3 separate regions of the Homo sapiens genome follow, and regions 1 and 3 are each linked to region 2. Evidence: fine-mapped expression QTL. A gene starts in region 2. Each other region holds a variant in brackets. All regions are shown on one strand. Distances are from middle to middle.

The links.
Region 1: its variant is fine-mapped to the expression of CLEC17A in whole blood (INTERVAL, PIP above 0.99).
Region 3: its variant is fine-mapped to the expression of CLEC17A in whole blood (INTERVAL, PIP 0.96).

Annotation. Positions count from the first base shown.
Region 1 is chr19:14,613,017-14,615,869 of GRCh38, forward strand. It overlaps a transcript of ADGRE3 not described here. Among named protein-coding and RNA genes, the nearest start is that of SNORA104, 7.8 kb to the right of the region's middle. RefSeq lists a silencer at 1,210-1,259. The variant T/C (reference allele first, on the strand shown) is at 1,740.
Region 2 is chr19:14,581,411-14,584,263 of GRCh38, forward strand. It overlaps CLEC17A (C-type lectin domain containing 17A), which reads left to right and starts at 1,674. Exons shown (of 14, transcript NM_001204118.2): 1 at 1,674-1,793; 2 at 1,947-2,024. The coding sequence starts at 1,751. It also overlaps the pseudogene RN7SL337P. RefSeq lists a silencer at 1,304-1,447 and an enhancer at 1,789-1,958.
Region 3 is chr19:14,629,112-14,631,611 of GRCh38, forward strand. ADGRE3 (adhesion G protein-coupled receptor E3) reads right to left here. Exons shown (of 16, transcript NM_032571.5): 14 at 928-1,096. Among named protein-coding and RNA genes, the nearest start is that of SNORA104, 8.1 kb to the left of the region's middle. The variant C/CTTATT (reference allele first, on the strand shown) is at 1,282.

The sequences.
Region 1 (2,853 bases), 32 kb after region 2:
CCAGGTTTAACTGGTTCTTCTGCCTCAGCCTCCTGAATAGCTGGGATTTCAGGCACGTGCCACCATGCCTGGCTAATTTTTGTATTTTTAGTAGAGACAGGGCTTTGCCATGTTGGCCAGGCTGGTCTCGAACTCCTGACCTCAAGTGATCCGCCCACCTCAGCCCCCTAAAGTGCTAAGATTACAGGCGTGAGCCACCATGCCTGGCCTTATTTTATTTTTTGAGACAAGGTCTCACTCTGTCGCCCAGGCTGGAGTGCAGTGTTGTAATCATAGCTCACTGAAGCCTCAAACACCTGAGCTCAAGAAATCCTCCGTCCTCAGACTCCTGTATAACTAGAACTACAGGTGTGCCCCCACCACACCCAGCTAATTTTAATTTTTTTTTTTTTTTGTATAGACAGGGGTCTTGCTTTGTTGCCCAGACTGGGCTTAAACTCCTGGTCTCAAACAATCCTCCTGCTTCAGCCTCCTAAAATACAAGGATTGCGATCAATTTATTGATCAATAAGCTCCCTTAATCAATAGCAGAATCTTTCCTGTTTTGTCTGAGAACAGGTGCTTATAGCAAGGAGACTGTGAGGAGAGCAGGTGGTGGGAGAGGTCGGAGCTGATTTCACTTCCTGTTTCTTTGATTTGTTTTAAATCTACTTGTTCTTTTATTTCGTTATTAAAAAAATTTTTTTTGAGATGGAGTGTCACTCTGTCACCCAGGCTGGAGTACAGTGGCATGATCTCGGCTCACTGCAACCTCCTCCTCCTGGGTACAAGCGATTCTTGTGCCTCAGCCTCCTGAGTAGCTGGGATTACAGGTGTGCGCCACCACATCCGGCTAATTTTTGTATTATTAGTAGAGACGGCATTTCGCCACTTTGGCCAGGCTGGTCTCGAACTCCTGACCTCAAGTGATCCACCCGCCTTGGCCTCTCAAAGTGCTGGGATTACAGGTGTGAGCCACTGCACCCAGCCTCGTTATTTATTTTTAAGAGATGGGTTCTCAGGACGTGGCCCAGGCTGGAGTGCAGTGGCATTTCACAGGCACGACCCCACTACTGAGTTTTGGTTCTGTCTGTCCTCTCTTCTCACCTCTGCCCACCTCTGCAGCTGCCCTGATGCATCACTACCAAAGCCAGCTCCTGTACTGTCCGCAGCCTGCTGAGTGGGTGGGTGTCGTGTTGTAAACCCTCCACCCAGGGGACTGTTATGTCAAGCAACTTTATCTGGGGTCAGGGGAAGTTCCCACATTTCAGAAGAGGGAAGTTGTTTTCTGATATGCGTATTGAGAAATGGGGAAGCAGGGGTCTGTGGTCACGTCTCTAGGAGGCCCCTGGTGGAACTGGTCCCAACCTATCTCCCTTCCACATCTCTCATGATTATCTAATTGCAGAGAGGTAAATATGAAAGAGGTCACTTTTTACCACTTTAGGTCCAGGGGAGCAACAGTTGGATAAAAATAATAACCATGGTTTATCAAACATATATTGTGTGGTAAATAAATGCAGTGGCTCTCATTGAATCTTCACCATGACTTTGTGAGGTTGGAATATTTACCAACGCCCGCCAATCTTTTTTTTTTTTTGGGCAGAGTCTCACTCTGTCTCCCAGGCTGGAGTGCAGTGGTGTGATCTCGGCTCACTGCAACCTTTGCCTCCTGGGTTCAAGCCATTCTTCTGCCTCTGCCTCCCAAGTAGTTGGGATTACAGGTACACCGTAATGCCCAGTGAATTTTTTCGTATTTT[T/C]ACTAGAGATGGGGTTTTGCCATGTTGGCCAGGCTGGTCTCAAACCCCTGGCTTCAAGTGATCTGCCTGCCTTAGCCTCCCAACGTGCTGCGTGCTGGGATTATAGGTGTGAGCCACTGTGCCCGGCCCCCATTTTTTTTTTTTTTTAAAGACAGGGTCTCACTCTGTCACCCAGGCTGAAGTGCAGTGGTGCAATCACAGCTCATTGTGGCCTCAACCTCCTGGGCTCAAGTGATCCTCCCACCTCAGCCTCCCAAGTAGCTGTGGCTATAGGTGTGTGCCACTACACCTGGCTAACCAACCCCATTTTATACCTGGGCAAACTGAGGCCCAGAGGTGGGGTCTCACGGCTTGTCCATTGTCATTTAGTGGGTAAATGGCAGAACTGGGATTCAGATTCCATCTGTGCCTCCCACTGTTTGTTGATCTCTTTCTACAGCTGCCTTCTTTTTTTTTTTTTTTTTTTTTTTGAGATGGAGTCTCACTCTGTTGCCCAGGCTGGAGTGCAGTGGTGTGATCTTGGCTCACTGCAACTTCCATCTCCCACCCCAGCTCCCTCGTTCCTCGGGAGAGGTGACTCTGAGATGCATGTTCCACATTATCTCCTGAAAGTCCCCACTAGGGTAAAGCTCCACCTGCCTAGAGAGATAGCCTGCTCAACTAACACATTTTTGGTTAATTTTTAAAATTAAAAAAAATTTTTTTTAGAGAGACAGCATCTCTGGCCAGGTGTGGTGGCTCACGCCTGTAATCCCAGCACTTTGGGAGGCCGAGGCAGGTGGATCGCTTGAGGCCATGAGTTCGAGACCAGCCTGGGCAACATGTTGAAACCCCATCTCTACTAAAAAATACAAAAATTAGCCGGGCGTGGTGGTGCGTGCCTGTAATCCCAGCTACTCAGGAGGCTGAGGCAGGAGATTTGCTTGAACCCGGGAGGCGAAAGTTACAGTGAGCTGAGATTATGCCACTGCACTCCAGCCTGGGCAACAGAGAGACTCTGCTAAAAAAAAAAAAAAATTAGAGAGACAGGTTCTCGCTGTGTTGCCCAACCTAGAGTGCAGTGGTGCAATCATAGCTCACTGCAACATTGAACTCCTGGGTTCAAGCAATCCTC
Region 2 (2,853 bases):
CCTCCCGGGTTCAAGCGATTCTTCTGCCGCAGCCACCCGAGTAGCTGGCATTACAGGTGCCCGCTATCATGTCCAGCTATTCTTTTTTTTTTTGTAACTTTAGTAGAGATGGGATTTCATCATGTTGGCCAGGCTGGTCTCGAATGCCTGACCTCAAGTGATCCACCTGTCTGAGCCTCCCGAAGTGTTGGGATTACAGGCGTGAGCCACCGCGCCTGGCCAGAAATGGATTATATGGATTATTTTATTTTATTTTTTTGAGATGGAGTTTCACTCTTGTTGCCCAGGCAGGAGTGCAATGATGTGATCTCGGCTCACTGCAACCTCTACCTCCCGAGTTCAAACGATTCTCCTGCCTCAGCCTCCTGAGTAGCTGGGATTACAGGTGCGCGCCACCATATCTGGCTAATTTTGTATTTTTAGTAGAGATGGGATTTCACCATGTTGGCCAAGCTGGTCTTAAACTCCTGACCTCACGTGATCCACCCACCTCGGCCTCCCAAAGTGTTGGGATTACAGGTGTGAGCCACTGCACCCGGCCAGATTATTTTATAGTTCTGGAGTCAGGAGACCAACATCAGTCTCACTGCTGAAACCCAGGTGTTCATGGGCTGGGCCATGCTTCTTTAAGAGGCTGCAGCGTGAGAATCCATTTTCTTGCTGTTTCCAGCCTCTGCAGTTGCATTCTTTAGCATATGGCTCCTTCTTGCATCTTCAAAGCCAGCATAACTTTAGTGACCACATTGCCTTTTTTTTGTGTCAAATCTCCTTCTGTTTCCCTTCTACGAGGACCCTTGTAATGCCATTTTTTTTTTTTTTTGAGACGGAGTCTCGCTCTGTCACCCAGGCTGGAGTGCAGTGGTGCGATCTCGGCTCACTGCAAGCTCCACCTCCTGGGTTCACGCCATTCTCCTCCCTCAGCCTCCCGAGTAGCTGGGACCACAGGCACCCGCCACCACACCCAGCTAATTTTTTGTATTTTTAGTGGAGACGGAGTTTCACTGTGTAAGCCAGGATGGTCTCGATCTCCTGACCTCGTGATCTGCCTGTCTCGGCCTCCCAAAGTGCTGGGATTACAGGCGTGAGCCACGATGCCTGGCCTGTAAAGCCATTTAAGGCCCACCTAGGTAATCCAGGATAAACCATCCATCTCAAGACCCTTAATTAATTAATTAATATTTAATGTTTTTTAAAAAATTAATTTATTTATTTATTGAGACAGAGTCTCACTCTGTCACTCAGGCTGGAGTGCAGTGGCGTGATCTCGGCTAACTGCAACCTCCATCTCCCAGGTTCAAGCGATTCTCCTGCCTCAGCCTCCTGAGTAGCTGGGATTACAGGCGCCTGCCACTGCGCCTGGCTAATTTTTGTATTTTTAGTAGAGACTGGGTTTCACCATGTTGGCCAACCTGGTCTCGAACTCCTGGCCTTAAGTGATCCATCCACCTCAGCCTCTAAAAGTGCTGGGATTCCAGGCGAGAGCCACCACACCAGGCCAGTTGTCATTATTCCTTCTGTGCGTGAATCCAAACTGGGGAGAAAGGCTCTGTGTGTATGTGTGTGTGTGTGTGTGTGTGTGTTTGTGTGAGCACGTGTGAGGTCTGAGGGCTTCCTGTCAAAATGAATTTGCATGTATTTGACTTTGAAAGGAAAAGGGAACTGAGAGAGCCCCCAGACGCCTGAGTCGGAGAGACAGGGGGCAGAGGTTGCCAAGCCCTGGCTGCCACTTGTCAGGTTCCCTGTGCTAGACATGCATAATCTGTATTCCATCACTGGGTACCCGGACCCACCAGGTAAGGCCCCGGCCAGGCTGGGGCTGGGGCCTAGGTGTGGTCAGGACCCAGGGTACAGAATCCCCACCATGGGGCAGCTGAGGCAGAGACCAGGGCTTGAGGGATGGAGGGAGGAGGGAATGGCTGGGCTCTGACTTGCCTTTCCCCTGGAAGGGACCATGGAGGAGGAGGAGGAGGATGATGACTATGAGAACTCAACACCTCCCTACAAGGACCTTCCTCCCAAGCCAGGTAAGAGGACTTTTTGGAGTGTGACCTGGGGGAATACAGGGAATGGGGTCTCCAGTGGGCATTGGTTGGGCATTGTAGACACATAGTCAGTCTCCTCTGTATCCAGCCCATGCCGGGCACTGTGGAACCCACACCCTGCCCAGGACGACCTGTCAGTCTGATGGCGGAGGTGGGTTTGGGCACAGTCTTGGTGAGCAGGGTGAGAGAGGAGGGGTCAGGAGATTGGCAAAATCCTTGGGGGACTGAGGGCTCAAATAGAGGAAGGGACTTTGGGGTGGGGCTTGAGGGATGAGTAGACATATCTTAAGAAGAGAAGTCCAGGAGAGAACAGTTAGGTGCAAAGTCTCTGAGTTACAAAAGCTGGTGCTTGAGAAACTGGGAGTGGACTGTGGGCTCCCAGTCTCCTCACCTTTCTACCCAAAGCCCAGGTTTTATTTAGACTTGGATCTCAAACCCAAGGCATAGCACAGGGTTCAACAAGAGACTGATAAGTGGTTGTTAAAGTGGAGGTTTGGGCCAGCTGCAGTGGTGTGCGTCTGTAGTCTTGATACTTTGGGAGGTCAAGGTGGGAGGATCGCTTGAGGACAGGAATTTGAGACCAGCCAGGGCAACATAGCAAGACCCTATCTCTGCCAAAAAAAAAAAAAAATAGAGGTTTGGGCCGTGTGTGGTGGCACATGTCTGTAGTCCCAGCTACTTGGGAGGCTGAGTCAGTAGGATCACTTGAGCCCAGGAGTTCTGGGCGATTGTGAACTAGGCGATCGGGCGTCTGCACTAAGTTTGGCATCAATATGGTGATGTTTTGGGAGCAGGGGACCACCAGGTTGCC
Region 3 (2,500 bases), 48 kb after region 2:
TGGGGTTTCGCCATGTTCGTCAGGCTGGTCTCAAACTCCTGAGCACAAGTGATCCCCCTGTGCTGGCCTCCCAAAGTGCTGGGATTACAGGCGTGAGCCACTGCACCCTGCCGATTGGAAACTTTTTCTGAAATAGGGCAGAACTGCTTGGGTGTTTTTTTCCATGTAACTTAAGGTAGTAATGTAAATAAAATAGTAGTTGGAAAAAAAATAATTCATGTGAAGTGGTGTGTTAGCTGCATTGTTGATCTCCACGATTCACTCCTTTGTAGTTGTATTACACTCTGTCTTAGTCTCTTGGTGGGTTGAGTGTTCTTTTCTCATTGACTTTGGGCTTGGGTGTGTGACTTTCTTTGGCTAATGGGATATTAGTAGAGGAAGAATCACAGGCTTGAGTGACCTTGCCCAGTAGGGTCTGCCTCTTTGTGATTTCAGCATTGTTAGGAGAAGAATATTTGCTGGGGAGTTGCTCCCCCTTCTGCTTAAGCCTCAGGATGAGTCACAAGGAGCAGGCCTAAATCTGATCTGCATCCTGGAGCAAAGGCAAGCTGAGCTCAGCTAAGATCAGGTGAACCCCAATAGACCTGTAGACCCCAGAATAAGAAAAGCAAATATTTGTGTTTAAACCAATGAGATTTTTTGAGGTTGTTTGTTACACAGCATTAGCTGACTATTACGAGTGGGAAAACTGAGAAAAAGGCATGATTTTTTTTTGACATAGCAATTATTTATATTCTGAAATGTGTTAATAAATGATGTATCTTAACAACTAGTAGCATTTTTAAAGTAGAGAAAATAGAGAGAGTGTTTACAGGTGGATTATAATCTCATGTGGAACATTTAGAGAATGTCAACTTAAATCCCCATTGAACTCCATTTCCAAAATTTTCTTAAGTTTAAATAACAAAGAAAGGGGTCAGTGTTTACCTGCTGGCTGAGGAGGCAGTAGACCAAGAAGATGAAGAAGCCTTGGAGGCTGTTGATGATGGTGAAGAGGTAGGCCATGACCTGGGCAGCTGGACCCACCTGTAGCAAGCCCAGACACCATGTGCAGCCCAGGATGAAGAGCTGAGCTGTTGCTTTGAAAGCCAGCATCCTGGGAGGAGGAAGTCAGAGATTAGGATGTCAAAAAACTAATAATGAGCATGAACACCCCTCTAGTTAGCTGTTAATAGTAAGAACTCTGGAGCTAGACTACCTGAGTTTAAATGGAAGCCAGCACTGGCTACCTGTGTGATCTTGTGAAAGCTGCTTTACCTTCTTGCAACTCAGCTCCCTCAT[C/CTTATT]TTATTTTATTTTATTTTATTTTATTTTATTTTTGAGATGGAGTCTTGCTCTGTTGCCCAGGCTGGAGCACAATGACATGATCTCGACTCACTGCAACCTCCACCTCCAGGGTTCAAGTGATTCTCCTGCCTCAGCCTCCCCAGTAGCTGGGACTAACTACAGGCATGCACCATCATGCCCTGCTAATTTTTGTTATTTTTAGTGGAGATGGGGTTTCGCCATGTTGACCAGGCTGGTCTTGAACTCCTGACCTCAAGAGATCCACCCATCTTGGCCTCCCAAAGTATTGGGATTAAAGGCGTGAACCACTGCACCCAGCCTCAGTTCCCTTATCTTAATAATTGTCCTATTTCGTGGGGTTGCTATAAAGATTACATGAGACTTTAATGGGAAAGTATTTAGGACAATGTATGGGACAAAGTTAGTACCAGACATGCATAAGGCATTTGAAAACCTGGGTGCTTTCTCTCTCACTCTTATCATTTATAGACAGGGGTCATATAATTTTTTTTGTTGAGACGGAGTCTCGCTCTGTGGCCCAGGCTGGAGTGCAGTGGTGTGATCTCAGCTCATGGGTTCAAGCGATTCTCCAGCCTCAGCCTCCCGAGTAGCTGGGATTACAGGCACGTCACCACACCCAGCTAATCTTTGTATTTTTAGTAGAGAAGGGGTTTCACCATGTTGGCCAGGCTGGTCTCGAACGACTGACCTCAAATAATCCACCTGCCTCGGCCTCCCAAAGTGTTGGGATTACAGGTGTGAGCCACCCCACCCGGCCGGGGTCATATAATTTGTTATTCAAACAGGAAGGCTTTTGTGATCAAAAGGAGGTGTACTGTTCCTAACAGAAAGAAATGATAAATGTTTGAGGTGATGAGTACCTTAAATACCCTGATTTGATCATTGCACATTTTATGCATGAATCAAAATATCACAAATACTTTGTAAATGTATATAAATATTATATATCAATAAGAATAAAAATAATAATAAAAAATGAAAGGGATACTATTAATAATTACATTGTGTCGACAGACATAAACTGAGACTGTTCCAGGTAAGCTGAGATATGAGGCCATCCTATTTATAGTATTTATGGCATATATACACACACAATATATATATGTACATATATATTTTATATACACTATCACAACATATAATCACAATATATAGTGATAGTGTATATAAAAATATACATTGTGTTATATATGTATA